Regions from separate parts of the Homo sapiens genome. Here region 1 is linked to region 2. Evidence: fine-mapped expression QTL. Tissue or cell type: subcutaneous fat. Region 2 holds a variant in brackets; the other region holds the start of a gene. All regions are shown on one strand. Distances are between the middles of the regions.

Region 1 (8,055 bases), 48 kb after region 2:
ATCCAGCCAGGCTCGGTGCCTCATGCCTGAAATCCCAGCACTTTGGGAGGCCCGGGTGGGAGGATTGCTTGAGGCCAGGAGTTCCACACCAGCCTGGGCAACACAGCCAGACTGTCTCTACAAAAAATTTTAAAAATTGGCCAGGCGTGGCTGGGCGCAGTGGTTCACCCCTGTAATCTCAGCACTTTGGTAGGCCGAGGCAGGCAGATCATGAGGTCAGGAGATCAAGACCAACCTGGCTAACACGGTGAAATGCCATCTCTACTAAAAATACAAAAAATTAGTCAGGTGTGGTGGCAGGCACCTGTAGTCCCAGCTACTCAGGAGGCTGAGGCAGAAAGAAGAATGGCGTCAACCCAGGAGGTGGAGCTTGCAGTGAGCCAAGATCGCACCACTGCACTCCAGCCTGGGCAAAAGAGTGAAACTACGTCTCAAAAAAATAAATAAATAAAAATAAAAGGAACAAAAGAAAGCTAGAGAATATACTACGCTAGGGAAACATGAGCACACTTATATAAGGAAGTATATGTTTCCTGAGTACATATATGAATAAAATGTGAAAACAGAACTAAAACGGTCCATCCCAAACTGAGAACAATGGTCACCTCTCAGGTACAGACAGGAGATGATGGCAATTAGGATGGGACTTTCACTTAATCTACAATGTTCTATTCTTTTTTAAAGAAAATACATTTGTCCATGTATGGCATAACTGAAAATTAAGTTTTTATAAAGAGGGTTGCCCTAGAGAGCATTCACAGCTTAAGCTTCAAAGAATTCAAATAGAATGAGACTCTTAATGTGGAAAAGTACAACAAGCACATTTTTTTCTGGCAACACCGAAGATGCAGGAGATTTCACAGTTCCCACATGAATACCACCAGTGGGCTCTGGCTGTGTGGCCAAAACTCTAGAGAAGAGGAAATTCACTGTATACCCGTAAGGCACAACCACTCCTTCAAACCAACCTTAGTGAACGTGTAAGTCACACACATAGTCTCCGGACAATATTCAGAGACTTAACTTTTTTCTTTGCTGTTTTTGTTTTTGTTTTCTTTTTTAAAAATTTGAGACAGGATTTCGCTACGTTGTCCAGGCTGGTCTCTAGCGCCTGGGCTCGGGCGATCCTCCCTCCTCAGCCTCCCCAAGTGCTGTGATTTCAGACGTGAGCCACAGTGCTTGGTCTCAAGGCTGAGGTTTTCTCACTCCAGCCCACCCAATCAGGGTCCCCATCAACACACATTCCCTTGACATTGCCCACTTTGGGCAAATTACTTACCTCTGGATTTTAGTTTTCTCAATGTAAAAAGACCTGCGAGGCCGGGCGCGGTGGCTCACGCCTGTAATCCCAGCACTTTGGGAGGCCGAGGCGGCTAGATCACGAGGTCAGGAGATCGAGACCATCCTGGCTAACATGGTGAAACCCCGTCTCTACTAAAAATACAAAAAATTAGCCGGGCGTGGTGGCGGGCGCCTGTAGTCCCAGCTACTCGGGAGGCTGAGGCAGGAGAATGGCATGAACCCGGGAGGCAGAGCTTGCAGTGAGCCGAGATCACACCACTGCACTCCAGCCTGGGCGACAGAGCGAGACTCCGTCTCAAGAAAAAAAAAAAAAGACCTGCTATACCACTTCACCCACCTGCCAGGATGACGACCAAGTTTCAAACAGAAGGACAGTCTACGTCCCAAGAGTCTGTGAGCCCCACTTTCAGACTTGCCTGGTTACAGGAAAGGGCACTGTGAAGCACTGCCTTGTCCCAGCAACCCCCATCTGTGGATCCCATCAGCACTCCTGATGAAATCACCACTGCCCCCAGAAAAAGCCAACTACCTACAGGAATTCCAGGCCACACCAAAGGGAGGGCGGTCTCCCAGAGACACAGCTCCCTCAGGTGTACAGCGCTCAGACTATCTCTAAATTACACCATTATGGTAGCCTCTGGAGTCTACTTCTGTGAAGCCTGAAGGAAACACAGTCCCCTACACCTGCAGAGGACCCCTCCAGCAATGCCAAATTGCTTTACAAGCTGAGATAGCAGCAGCATTCCGATCCAATCACAGCCTACCTGTTCCCAAGTGACCCCTCGGAAAGGGTCCCGCCTGAGACTCACGCTGGCCTCCAACATGTGACTTCATGGACACAATGTTCTAATCAGCGAGAACTATCACGTGCCTCCCCTTACACTGATACAAGGGAAAGGAAAAAATAACTGAAGACCCATTCTGAAAGGCCCTTCTTTCTAGACACAGTCTTCACATCGAGGATGCCCACCAAATGCAACAATCCCTCCCCTGCTCCCCGCTGCCGTTTCTCGCCGACGAAGAAACTGTCTACCAACCCTCCAGAGCTCACTTCAGTCATCACCTCCTCAGCGACACCTTGCCAGACCTCCCCACAAGGGGATTCCCCAATCTTGTCCCCCCCCACCAAGAAGAAACCGTAACTCACACCAACACCCACCTACATCTCTTCTCTGGCAGCTAGGACCACAGGAAGGAACATCCAGAAATAAGGGGCACCCTCCTGTATTCCTTCTAATGTTTAGCCTCGTTTGTTTTGTTTTGTTTTGTTTTTTTTGAGGCGGAGTCTCGCTCTGTCGCCCAGGCTGGAGTGCAGTGGCGCTATCTCGGCTCACTACAAGCTCTGCCTCCCGGGTTCACGCCATTCTCCTGCCTCAGCCTCCCGAGTAGCTGGGACTACAGGCGCCCGCCACCGCGCCTGGCTAATTTTTTTTGTATTTTTAGTAGAGACAGGGTTTCACCGTGTTAGCCAGGATGGTCTTGATCTCCTGACCTCGTGATCCGCCCGCCTCGGCCTCCCAAAGTGCTGAGATTACAAGCGTGAGCCACCGTGCCCAGCCATGTTTAGCCTCATTAACCCAAATCCCTTAAAGAGAAATACAAGAGGCCAGGCGCGGTGGCTCACGCCTGTAATCCCAGCACTCTGGGAAGCTGAGGTGGTTGGATCACCTGAGGTCAGGAGTTCGAGACCAGCCTGGCCAACATGGTGAAACTCCGTCTCTACTAAAAATACAAAATTTAGCCGAGTGTCATGGTGGATGCCTGTAATCCCAGCTACTCAGGAGGCTGAGGCAGGAGAATCGCTTGAACCCGGGAGGCGGAGGTTGCAATGAGCCGAGATCGCACCATTGCACTCCAGCCTGAGTGACAGTGAGAATCTGTCTCAAAAAAAAAAAAAAAAGAAAAGAAAAGAAAAAGAAAAAAGAAAAAGACAGAAATACAGGCCAGGCACGATGGCTCATGCCCGTACTCCCAGCACTTTGGGAGGCCAAGGCAGGAGGACCGCTTGAGGCCAGAAGCTCCAGACCAGCCTGGACAACATAGCAAGATCCCATCTCTACAAAAATAAAAAAAATTACCGGGCGTAACTGCACGCGCCCGTAGTCCCAGCACTTTGGGAGGCTAAGGCGGAGGATCACTTGAAAGAGAGAGAAAAGCAGCTACACATCTATAGATTCGGTTCACAGATGAGAAAACAGAGGTCCCGAGAGGTGAAATTACTGGCCCAAGACCACACAACCGACAGGAGCTTGGGAGAGAGGATGTGGCTAGGAAAGGCGCCCAAGTCCGGGGAAGTGGCCCCCAGTGCCATCGCTCAGCGTGACCAGGCAGGGCAGAAGAGCAGGGCACCAGGAACGGGGCGAGGAGGAAACTGTCCCCGAGGACGCCTCTGAGAGCCCCGGGAAAGCGCCTCGGAACGCGGCCAGCTGTAACCTGGACAGGGCTCTCCCGGCGCAGGAGGGCAGGGGACCCCGAGGGACGGAGGCGCGAGAGAGCACGGGGACCCCCAAAGGACAGGCGCGCAGGAGGGCAGGGGGACCTCCGAGGGACTGGGGCGTGGGGCCGAACGCGGGGCGCGGGGGCAGGAAACGAGTCGGGGACCAAGCGCGGCGGCTGAGCCCCGTCCGCCGGGGGTGGTCGGGCCGCGCGCCCTGGGCAGGTGGGGGCTACCGCCGCCCCACGCCCTACCTGACGCCGGGGGATCCGCCTCCTCGTCAGCCTCCGCCTCAGCTGCCGCCCCGACTGCAGCCGCGGGCAGCGGGTCCATCGCGCGGCCAGTCATGTGAGCCCGCGCTCCCACGTGACTTCCTCCCGCGCCACCCGGCCGCGCAGCCCTGCCGCGCCGCGCCCTCGCCCCGCCCACACCCCGCCTGGTCACGCCCCCTCCCCCGCGCGCCACGCCCACAGTCCGCCCCTGCGGGCCCGCCGCGCTCCTCGCCCGGCCTCGCCACGCCTACAACCCGCCTAGCCACGCCCACATGCCCCTCCCCGTCCACGTGGACACGGAGCCTGCTGGTGGCGCAGGTTACCTCCCCTCAGGTTGGACCTCCGGACTCGCAGGTGCACTACCTCAGGCGCAAGCCTGCACCCACCGCACCCTCATTCACTCCCATCTCTCCTCGCCCAGTCACGCCCTTGTTCGCTCATTCACCGGTTACACTGGGGTTTTCTGACTCGCACTTCCTCATTCATCCACTCACCCACTCATTCGCTCACCCACGCACTGCATCCTGCATTCATTCATTCACCCACTCACTCACTGCATCCTACATTCATTCATCCACTCACACACTCACTCACCGCATCCTGCATTCATCCAGCCACTCACTCACTCACTGCATCCTGCAATCATTCACCCACTCACTCACTGCATCCTGCATTCATTCATTCACCCACTCACTCACTGCATCCTGCATTCATTCATTCACCCACTCACTCACTGCATCCTACATTCATTCATCCACTCACACACTCACCGCATCCTGCATTCATCCAGCCACTCACTCACTGCATCCTGCATTCATTCATCCAGCCACTCACTCACTGCATCCTGCATTCATTCATTCACCCACTCACTCACTGCATCCTGCATTCATTCATTCACCCACTCACGCACTGCATCCTGCATTCATTCACCCACTCACCCACTCACTCACTGCATCCTGCATTCATTCATTCACCCACTCACCCACTCACTCTCTGCATCCTGCATTCACTCATTCACTCACTTATTGCATCCTGCATTCATTCACCCACTCACCCACTCACTCACTGCATCCTGCATTCATTCATCCACCCACTCACTCATGCACTGCATCCTGCATTCATTCATCCATTCACTCACTCACTCACTTACTGCTTCTTCATACGTTCATTCACCCACTCACTCACTGCATCCTGCATTCATTCATCCACCCACTCACTCATGCACTGCATCCTGCATTCATTCATCCATTCACTCACTCACTCACTTACTGCTTCTTCGTACATTCATTCACCCACTCACGCACTGCATCCTGCATTCATTCATTCACCAACCCACTCACTGCATTCTGCATTCATTCAGTCACTCACTCACTGCATCCTGCATTCATTCATTCACCCACTCACTCACTTACTGCATCCTACATTCATTCATTCACTCACTGCATCCTGCATTCATTCATTCACCCACTCACTCACTTACTGCATCCTGCATTCATTCACTCACTCACTAACTGCATCCTGCATTCATTCACTCACTCACTAACTGCATCCTGCATTCATTCATCCACCCACTCACTCACTCACTGCATCCTGCATTCATTCATCCACTCACTCACTCACTGCTTCTTCATACATTCATTCACCCACACTCACTGCATCCTGCATTCATTCACCCACTCACTCACCCACTCACTGCATCCTGCATTCATTCATCTACCCACCCACTCACTCATGCACTTCATCCTGCATTCATTCACCCACTCACTCACTCACTGCATCCTGCTTTCATTCACGCAACCACTCACTCACTGCACCCTGCATTCATTCACCCACTCACTCACTGCATCCTGCATTCACTCACCCACCCACTCACTCACTGCATCCTGCATTCATTCATTCACCCACTCACTCACTCTGCATCCTGAATTCATTCACACAACCACTCACTCACTCACTCACTGCATCCTGCATTCATTCACCCACCCACTCACTGCATCCTGCATTCATTCATTCACTCACTCACTCACTCATGCACTGCATCCTGCATTCATTCACGCAACCACTCACTCACTGCATCCTGCATTCATTCACCCACTTACTCACTGCATCCTGCATTCATTCACCCACTCACTCACTCACTGCATCCTGCATTCATTCATTCACCCACTCACTCACTCACGCACTGCATCCTGCATTCATTCACACAACCACTCACTCACTGCATCCTGCATTCATTCATTCATTCACCCACTCACTCACGCACTGCATCCTGCATTCATTCACACAACCACTCACTCACTGCATCCTGCATTCATTCATTCACCCACTCACTGAGTCACTGCATCATGCATTCATTCATGCAACCACTCACTCACTCACTGCATCCTGCATTCATTCATTCACCCACCCACTCACTCACTGCATCCTGCATTCATCCACCCACCCACTCACTCACTCACTCACTGCATCCTGCATCTATCCACCCACCCACTGGCCCACTCAGGTTTGCTGGCTGCCACCAGGAGGTCAGGAAGCCCTGTGCTGGGTGCTGAGAATACAAAGATGTTTCCTGTGCATTCCTTGATCTGGAGGAGGCACAGATGGCCAGAGTGGAGCAAGTGTGCTAACTGTTCCAAAACGGGAGCAAGGCTGTGCAACACACCGCAGAAGAGGGTGAAGGGTGAAGGGCGATCCCTTCCCTACATGGGTGAAGGGATCCCTGGATGGGTGGTACCAGAGTTAGGGCTGGAGGAATAAGGAGTTAAGTAGGAGGAGGGCACGAAGGCTCTGAGACATCAGCTGCAGATGCTGTGGTCATTCCAGGCTAAAAGTGTGGGGTTTGGCATGGAGATTGGTAGGCCTGCATCAGGAAGGGCTTGTTTCCAAAGGAAGGATCCTGGACCTTCTTTTTTTTTTTTTTTTTTTTTTTTTTTTTTTTTTTTTTTTTTTTTGAGACAGAGTCTCACTCTGTTGCCTGGAGCGGAGGGCAGTGGCATGATCTTGGCTCACTGCAACCTCCGCCTCCCAGGTCAAGCGATTCTCCTGTCTCAGCCTCCCGTGTAGCTGGTATTACAGGCGTGTGCCACCACACCCAGCTAATTTTTGTATTTTTGTAGAGATGGGTTTTCACCATGTTGGCCAGGCTGGTCTCGAACTCCTGACCTCAAGTGATCCGCCCACCTTGGCCTTCCAAAGTGCTGGGATTACAGGTGTGAGCCACCGTGCCCGGCCATCCTGGACCTTCTAACGCTGATGTCACACAATGTCCGGGGAGTTGATTACAGAACCAAGAGCCCAGAACCATGTCAGTTCCTAGGAAGCGTCCCCTTCTCACAAGGTAGTTACTTCCTCTGGCTATAGCTGCTGGACCCTGCCTCGGTAACAGATGACTGCACCTAGGACGCCATAGGGTCCCCGCACACCAGGACCTCCATGCAAGCAGGCACACCATTGATGCTCTCTCCACCATAACCTGGGAGGCCAAGGTTGCAGTGAGCCGAGATCGAGATGTCCTTCTGCTGATGGACATATAACAACTTTCCCTAGGCACAGTGGGACATGGCAGGATCCTGTGACCTCCCCCCATATCTGATAGCTGCTTCCTTCCTCCACCCTCACTTCCTTCCAGCTGCTGTTGCTGCCAAATAATGTACTCAGCACTTTCCCTGTGCCACGCACACATATATACTCTGCCCACTTCCTGATCATATTTTTATTAGAGGCAGGGTCTTGCTGTGTTGCCCAGGCTGGACTGTAGCTGCCCAATCATAGCTCACTATAGCCTCAAACTCCTGGCCTCAATCAGTCCTCCCACCTCAGCCTCCCAAGTAGCTGGGACTAAGGCACAGGCCACCATGCCCAGCTGTTTCCTACGTATTTTTGGTCTCAAACTAGATTATAAAATATTTACTTATTAAATTTGTAGCCAGGCACAGTTGCTCACACCTGTAATCCCAGCACTTTGGGAGGCTGAGGCAGGCAGATCACCTGAGGTCAGGAGTTCGAGACCAGCCTGGCCAACATGAGGAAACCACTACAGTCTCTACC
Region 2 (8,055 bases):
AGTAGCCTGGAGGCCACTTTCCCAAGAAATAGGAACTAGGCAGCAAGCTCCCACATTCACAACTATGTCCACTTTTTTTTGTTTTTGAGACAGGGTCTCGCTCTGTCGCCCAGGCTGGTGTGCAGTGGCACCATCATGGCTCACTGAAGCCTCTACCTCTTGGGTTCAGGTGATCCTCCCACCTCAGCCTCGTGAGTAGCTGGGACTACAGACACGCACCACCACCCCTGGCTAATTTTTTTTTATTTTTGATAGAGATGAGATCTTGCTCTGTTGCCCAGGGTGGTCCTGAACTCCTGGGCTCAAGCAGTCCTCCTGCCTCAGCCTCCCAAAGCGCTGGGATGATAGGTGTGAGCCGCTGTGCCCAGCCATGTAACACTTTTTCTTAACATAAAAGCACCCAGATGAGCTTTCCAGTGTGATAGTAAACACCGTATCTTCAAACTGATCCCAAATGACTCCAAGATCTTGGCGAATTTCTGAAATCAGCTTCTGCCCATGCAGCAGGAGCACTGCCTGAGGTTGTGTGTGGAGCGGGAGGTGGGAGCCGCTCAGGTGCTGGGGCTTTATTATTCTGATGAGTTAAGTCTCCAGTGCCAAATCCTAGTGGACTCAGACAGCAAAGTGGGAACTATCTGGTCCACCCAGGAGTATGCCTGGAAGCCCAAGATCATCTTTTCAAAGACAGAGTCTGTCTTCCAACCTCAGCAAAATCAACACTCAAGACTACAGCCTAATCTGTTTTGTCGCTGGCAACCCCCTCTCGAAAGCGTAAACGCTCCCAGGGAGCCACCAGGAACAGATGTGGATGGGCAGCTCCCACCCAGGGCACAGCTGTCATTCACTCGGCTCAGAACTGGGAAGCCGGCCGGGCACAGTGGCTCACGCCTGTAATCCCAGCACTTTGGGAGGCCGAGGCGGGCAGGTCACCTAAGGTCAGGAGTTCAAGACCAGCCTGACGAACATGGTGAAACCTCATCTCTACTAAAAATACAAAAAATTAGCCAGGCATGGTGGTGGACACCTGTAATCCCAGCTACTCAGGAGGCTAAGGCAGGAGAATCACTTGAACCCAGGAGGCAGAGGTTGCAGCGAGCCGAGATTGCGCCTTTGCGCTCCAGCCTGGCAACAGAGGGAGACTCCTTCTCAAAACAACAAAACAAAAACGAACTGTGACGCCCATCTAAGCAGGAGGCACTCCCCATGCAAAGGCATAGCGTGTTCTCTGGAACAGGCGCCTGGGAGAACCGATCCACTCACCTGTTGTGCAGCCTTGTCGGCGAGCAGCGCGAATTCCACAGACAGGCCTTTCAGAGCCTGCTTCAGGGACCCCCACGTGCTGCTATTCAGAGCGGCCCAGGAGGGCAGCGGGGTCGTGTCAGACCCTATTGCACTGAGGGAGCAAGCACACAGGAGAGGAGACACTCAAGGCCTGGAGCTCACCTGGCAGTCGAGTCTGGCATCCCCCCCGACAGATGTCCTCCACGGCAACCTGCGTGACCCCGTCCTAGGACCCTGCTGCTCAAAGAGTGGCCTGTGGGGACCCTGGGAGCCCGGGAGAAAGGGTGGCCCTGGGGCTGCACCTCAGGACCTGCTGCGTCTCTTCTTCCCAACCAGCCCCCAGGTGACATGTGTGCACAGGTGACGGGCACTGCTGGGGCAAGCAGAGTCCCGGGTGGGGTCTCCCCTCCCCTCAGGCAAAGGAAGCGCTGCCAGCCCATGGTCTGTTCTTCCCCAAGTCAAAGGGATCTTTTTTTTTTTTGAGACGGAGTCTCGCTGTATCACCCAGGCTGGAGTGCAGTGGCGCGATCTCGGCTCACTGCAACCTCCGCCTCCTAGGTTCAAGCAATTCTCTGCCTCAGCCTCCCGAGTAGCTGAGATGACAGGCACCCGCCACCACGCCCAGAGAACTTTTTTTTGTATTTTTAGTAGAGACGGGTTTCACCATCTTGGCCAGGCTGATCTTGAACTCCTGACCTCGTGATCCACCCACCTCGGCCTCCCAAAGTGCTGGGATTACAGGTGTGAGCCACCACGCCTGGCCTGGGATCTTTTTTTAAAGTCTCATCCTGACAGTGAAAAAACTACCAGACTAGAAACTGGTGAGCATTTACTCGTGCTCAGAAATCCGTGTTTCAGGGCCGAAATTCTCCCGTGTTTCTTCCAAATATGACCCCCCATGTGCCTGAGCCACTTTCTGCCCCTTCTGAGATGAAACAGGTCAGGATGCTGGTTATTACGGTAAACGCACTTTCCGCCCAAGCCCTTCACCAGCATGGATTCCCGTCCCACCGCGCGTGCCCCTGCAGAAGCTGAAAGGTCACCTACCTTAGCTCCTTCCCGAATATGAGAAGATCTGCCGCATTGTCGATGGCCCGCGATGCGATCCGCTCGGCCCTGTCGCGAAGCTTGTGAAAGCTATTGTAGATGTTCCGGATCAGCTCCCGGCTGATGGCAAACTGAGCCTGGATGTCAGCTGGGAGGAAGTCCTGACATCATGATGGGGGGAGAGACACTGTGTTAGTCGCTGGGGAGCACCTGTCAGACGGCAGCAGCCGGTCCCCCAGAAGCTGAGCCACGGGAGACACAGCAGGTCCATGAGCCACCCCGGGAGCCCCACTCCTCCAGGCCTGCAGGGATCACTCTGTGTGTCCAAAAAAGAAACAAAAACCATCATCACCTGCATGCCACAAACACAAAGACAAATGATCCCATGGGATGAGGACCACAGAGTCCACTGAAATCTCATCACACTGGAGGACCTATCCAAAAACACTCAAATAAGGCCAGGGGCAGTCACTCACACCTGTAATCCCAGCACTTTGGAGGCTGAGGCAGGTGGATCACCTCAGGTCAGGAGTTCAAGACCAGCCTGACCAATATGGTGAAACCCCATCTCCACTAAAAATACAAAAATTAGCTGGGCATGGCGGCATGCACCTGTAATCCCAGCTACTCCAGAGGCTGAGACAGGAGAATTGCTTGAATCCGGGAGGCAGAGGTTGCAGTGAGCTGAGATCGCGCAACCACACTCCAGTTTGGGCGACAGAACGAGACTCTGTCTCAAAACAAACAAACCAACAAAACACTCGAATAATAATCTTGCCGGGCGCAGTGGCTCACGCCTGTAATCCCAGCACTTTGGGAGGCCGAGTAGGGCGAATCACGAGGTAAGGAGATCGAGACTATGGTGAAACCCCATCTCTACTAAAAATACAAAAAATTAGCCGAGCCTGGTGGTGGGCACCTAGTCCCAGCTACTTGGGAGGCTGAGGCAGGAGAATGGCATGAACCCCGGAGGCGGAGCTTGCAGTGAGCTGCGATCACACCACTGCACCCCAGCCTGGGCAACAGAGCGAGACTCCGTCTCAAAAACTAACAATACTAATCTTTAGCTGGATACAGTGACTCACACCTGTACCCCAGCGCTCTGGGAGACTGAGGCAAGAGGATTGCTAGAGCCTGGGAGTTTAAGAACAGCCTGGGCAACATAGTGAAACCCCATCTCTCCCAAAAAATCAAAAAATTAGCCAGGCGTGGTGGAGCGCCTGTGGTCCCAGGTGCTTACAGAGGGCTGAGGCAGGAGGATCACTTGAGCCCAGGAGTTCCATGCTGCAAGGAGCCATGATCACAACACTGCACTCCAGCCTGGGGACCCTGTCCCCAGAAAACAACAAAAATAAAAACAAACAATCTTCAAGTTAAACACAATGAACATAAATTCCTGAAAGACTCTCCACATGGGGGGAAGGCCTCTTCTATGCCGCGTTTATTCCCAAAGACTTTTTATAAGATTTGATACTAACTATCAGAGTTCAGAAAACAGAAAGCTCAGAGAGTAAAATGAAGGTAAAAGATTTGGCCAGGCATGGTGGCTCATGCCTTTAATCCCAGTACTTTGGGGGGCCATGCCAGGAGGATTGCTTGAGGCCAAGAGTTCAAGACCAGCCTGGGCAACATAGTGAGACTTCATCTATACCAAAAACAAACAAACAAATCAGCCAAGTACTGTGGTGCATGCCTGTGGTCCCAGCTATTCTGGGAGGCTGAAGTGGGAGAATTGCTTGAACTCAGGAGGTCGAGGCTGCAATGACCTACGATTGCACCACTGCACTATAGCCTAGAGGACAGAGCAAGACCTTGTCTCAAAAAATAAAATAAAATAGATTTTTAATTTTTGTATGAAGAAGCAGGTTTTTTTCTGGTTTTTTTGTTGTTGTTGTTGTCGTCTTTGACACAAAGTCTCACTCTGTTACCCAGGCTGGAGTGCAATGGCACGACCTGGGCTCACTGCAGCCTCTGCCTCCTGGGTTCAAGCAGTCCTCTTGCCTCAGCCTCCCAAATAGCTGGGATTACAGGTGCCTGCCACCAAGCCTGGCTAATTTTTTTTTTCTTTTTTTTGATGGTGTCTCTGTCGTCCAGGCTGGAGTGCAGTGGCGCAATCTTGGCTCACTCCAACCTCTTCCTCCTAGGTTCAAGCAATTCTCCTGCCTCAGCCTCCTGAGTAGCTGGAATTACAGGTGCACGCCACCGCACCCAGCTAATTTTTGTATTTTTAGTAGAGGCGGGGTTTCACCATGTTAGTCAGGCTAGTCTTGAACTCCTGACCTCGTGATCCACCCGCCTCGGCCTCCCAAAGTGCTAGGATTACAGGCGTAAGCCACCACGCCCGGCCGGTTTTTTGGGGTTTGTTTTGCTTTTTTTTGTTTTCCTTTTTTGTTTTGTATTTTTATTAGAGATGGGGTTTTGCTATGTTGGCCAGGCTGGTCTCAAACTCCTGACCTCAAGTGATCCGACAGCCTCAGCCTCCCAAAGTGCTGGGATTACAGGAAGGAGCCACCGCGCCAGCCTGAAGAAGAGGTTTAAAAAGAAAAAACCAAAAACAAAAAAACTACCAAGTAGCTACCTTAGTCTTTTTTGGAAAAAGACCAAACTTTAAACATTTAATAATAAACAAATGTAACAATGAATCCCCAGAAATCTGAAAAGGTGCTGACACAAGCATCCGTCTGTCTGAGTCACAGAAAAGGGCAGAGGGCACGAGGTGCCTGGAGGGCCTGAGGGCAGAGCTCAGCCGCAACCCGGCCCTGCTGCTTAGAGGCT[C/T]GGGGCCTTGGCAAATGACAGCCTCCCTGAGCCTGTTTCTCCATCCGTAAAACAGGCCTCCCAGCCCTGTGTCGGAGCAACTGAAACGAGGGTTAAATGAGGAAACCATGCGACAGATGTCAGCATAATCCCTGCCACGCAGAGGAGGCAAAATCACTTTGAAGGGTTAAAACTTGTTTCTCTGGTTAAAAAGGGATGTACTCTTCAAAGTTAGAAAAATACCTTGGCCCTCTCCCTCCCCCTCCCCCTCCCCCTCCCCCTCTCCCTCTCCCTCACCCCACAGTCTCCCTCTCATGCGGAGCCGAAGCTGGACTGTACTGCTGCCATCTCGGCTCACTGCAACCTCCCTGCCTGATTCTCCTGCCTCAGTCTGCCGAATGCCTGCGATTGCAGGCACGCGCCGCCACGCCTGACTGGTTTTGGTGGAGACGGGGTTTCGCTGTGTTGGCCGGGCCGGTCTCCAGCCCCTAACCGCGAGTGATCCGCCAACCTCGGCCTCCCGAGGTGCCGGGATTGCAGACGGAGTCTCGTTCACTCAGTGCTCAATGGTGCCCAGGCTGGAGTGCAGTGACGTGATCTCGGCTCACTACAACCTACACCTCCCAGCCGCCTGCCTTGGCCTCCCAAAGTGCCGAGACTGCAGCCTCTGCCCGGCCGCCACCCCGTCTGGGAAGTGAGGAGTGTCTCTGCCTGGCCGCCCATCGTCTGGGATGTGAGGAGCCCCTCTGCCTGGCTGCCCAGTCTGGAAAGTGAGGAGCGTCTCCGCCCGGCCGCCATCCCATCTAGGAAGTGAGGAGCGCCTCTTCCCAGCCGCCATCACATCTAGGAAGTGAGGAGCGTCTCTGCCCGGCCGCCCATAGTCTGAGATGTGGGGAGCGCCTCTGCCCCGCCGCCCCATCTGGGATGTGAGGAGCGCCTCTGCCCGGCCGAGACCCCGTCTGGGAGGTGAGGAGCGTCTCTGCCCGGCCAGCCACCCCGTCCGGGAGGGAGATGGGGGGGTCAGCCCCACCACCTGGCCAGCCGCCCCGTCCGGGAGGGAGGTGGGGGGGTCAGCCCCCCGCCTGGCCAGCCGCCCCATCCGGGAGGGAGGTGGGGGGCGTCAGCCCTCCGCCCGGCCAGCCGCCCCATCTGGGATGTGAGGAGCGCCTCTGCCCGGCGAGACCCCGTCTGGGAGGTGAGGAGCGTCTCTGCCCGGCCGCCCCGTCTGAGAAGTGAGGAGACCCTCTGCCTGGCAACCACCCCGTCTGAGAAGTGAGGAGCCCCTCCGCCCGGCAGCTGCCCTGTCTGAGAAGTGAGGAGCCTCTCCGCCCGGCAGCCACCCCATCTGGGAAGTGAGGAGCGTCTCCGCCCGGCAGCCACCCCATCCGGGAGGGAGGTGGGGGGGGTCAGCCCCCCGCCCGGCCAGCCGCCCCATCCGGGAGGGAGGTGGGGGGTCAGCCCCCCCGCCCGGCCAGCCGTGCCATCCGGGAGGGAGGTGGGGGGGTCAGCCCCCCGCCTGGCCAGCCGCCCTGTCCGGGAGGGAGGTGGGGGGGTCAGCCCTCCGCCCAGCCAGCCGCCCCGTCTGGGAGGTGAGGGGCGCCTCTGCCCGGCCGCCCCTACTGGGAAGTGAGGAGCCCCTCTGCCCAGCCAGCCGCCCCGTCCGGGAGGGAGGTGGGGGGGGTCAGCCCCCCAGCCCGGCCAGCCGCCCCGTCCGGGAGGTGAGGGGCGCCTCTGCCCGGCCGCCCCTACTGGGAAGTGAGGAGGCCCTCTGCCCGGCCAGCCGCCCCGTCCGGGAGGGAGGTGGGGGGGTCAGCCCCCCGCCCGGCCAGCCGCCCCGTCCGGGAGGGAGGTGGGGGGGGGTCAGCCCCCCTGCCTGGCCAGCCGCCCCGTCCGGGAGGTGAGGGGCGCCTCTGCCCGGCCACCCCTACTGGGAAGTGAGGAGCCCCTCTGCCCGGCCACCACCCCGTCTGGGAGGTGTGCCCAACAGCTCATTGAGAACGGGCCAGGATGACAATGGCGGCTTTGTGGAATAGAAAGGCGGGAAAGGTGGGGAAAAGATTGAGAAATCGGATGGTTGCCGTGTCTGTGTAGAAAGAAGTAGACATGGGAGACTTTTCATTTTGTTCTGTACTAAGAAAAATTCCTCTGCCTTGGGATCCTGTTGATCTGTGACCTTACCCCCAACCCTGTGCTGTGTCCACTCAGGGTTAAATGGATTAAGGGCGGTGCAGGATGTGCTTTGTTAAACAGATGCTTGAAGGCAGCATGCTCGTTAAGAGTCATCACCACTCCCTAATCTCAAGTAATCAGGGACACAAACACTGCGGAAGGCCGCAGGGTCCTCTGCCTAGGAAAACCAGAGACCTTTGTTCACTTGTTTATCTGCTGACCTTCCCTCCACTATTGTCCCATGACCCTGCCAAATCCCCCTCTGCGAGAAACACCCAAGAATGATCAATAAAAAAATAAATTAAAAAAAAAAAAAAAGAAAAAAAAAAGAAAAATACCTTGGCCCTGGTAGCCAGCTTACAGTTCAGGAATTCGTCCCCGACGCACTGTGCTGACTCCTTTAACTTGTTCTGCACATCCTGCAAAAGGAAAACACACAGCTTCACCCTCTTCTACTAGCAGCAAGAAAGCTGCTGTGGGGTATGGGTCACTGTGGAGCGGGAGGTCGTCTTTCCTCAGGAGAAACACATTTCCATATGTTGGCTTTGACATTAGTATTCTGCAATCTCTTGACTCTCCCTTAGATGTTTTTCTCACCAAACAGGACAGCCTGGCTTCACAGCAGGAGCACCACAAACCTGCAGCCTCTCTCCAGAGGCACAGCCACTCCATCCGCAGACGGGGGGCAGCTCTCCAGAGAAACAGCCACTCCATCCACAGACCAGGGGCGGCTCTGCAGAGAAACGGCCCCTCCATCCACAGACCCGGGGCGGCGTCAGCCCCAGAGATACCTGAGACCCTGGT

Direction of the effects. Alleles are on the strand shown, and positions count from the first base shown. SD is a standard deviation of normalised expression in the study named.
For the expression in subcutaneous fat of the gene that starts at base 4,104 in region 1, allele T in region 2 goes with a higher level than allele C (moderate effect, 0.42 SD a copy in FUSION).

What was found. PIP is the estimated chance that this variant, and not a neighbour inherited with it, causes the effect.
Region 1: it holds the start of SNX8, and the variant in region 2 is fine-mapped to the expression of SNX8 in subcutaneous fat (FUSION, PIP 0.95).

The regions. Positions count from the first base shown.
Region 1 is chr7:2,310,338-2,318,392 of GRCh38, forward strand. It overlaps SNX8 (sorting nexin 8), which reads right to left and starts at 4,104. Exons shown (of 11, transcript NM_013321.4): 1 at 3,991-4,104. The coding sequence starts at 4,084. RefSeq lists enhancers at 1,754-1,823, 1,844-2,013, 2,214-2,293, 2,334-2,463, 4,208-4,708 and 3 more and silencers at 3,780-4,019, 4,120-4,389.
Region 2 is chr7:2,261,970-2,270,024 of GRCh38, forward strand. It overlaps SNX8 (sorting nexin 8), which reads right to left. Exons shown (of 11, transcript NM_013321.4): 5 at 7,590-7,670; 6 at 2,329-2,489; 7 at 1,261-1,393. Among named protein-coding and RNA genes, the nearest start is that of MIR6836, 8.4 kb to the left of the region's middle. The variant C/T (reference allele first, on the strand shown) is at 5,104.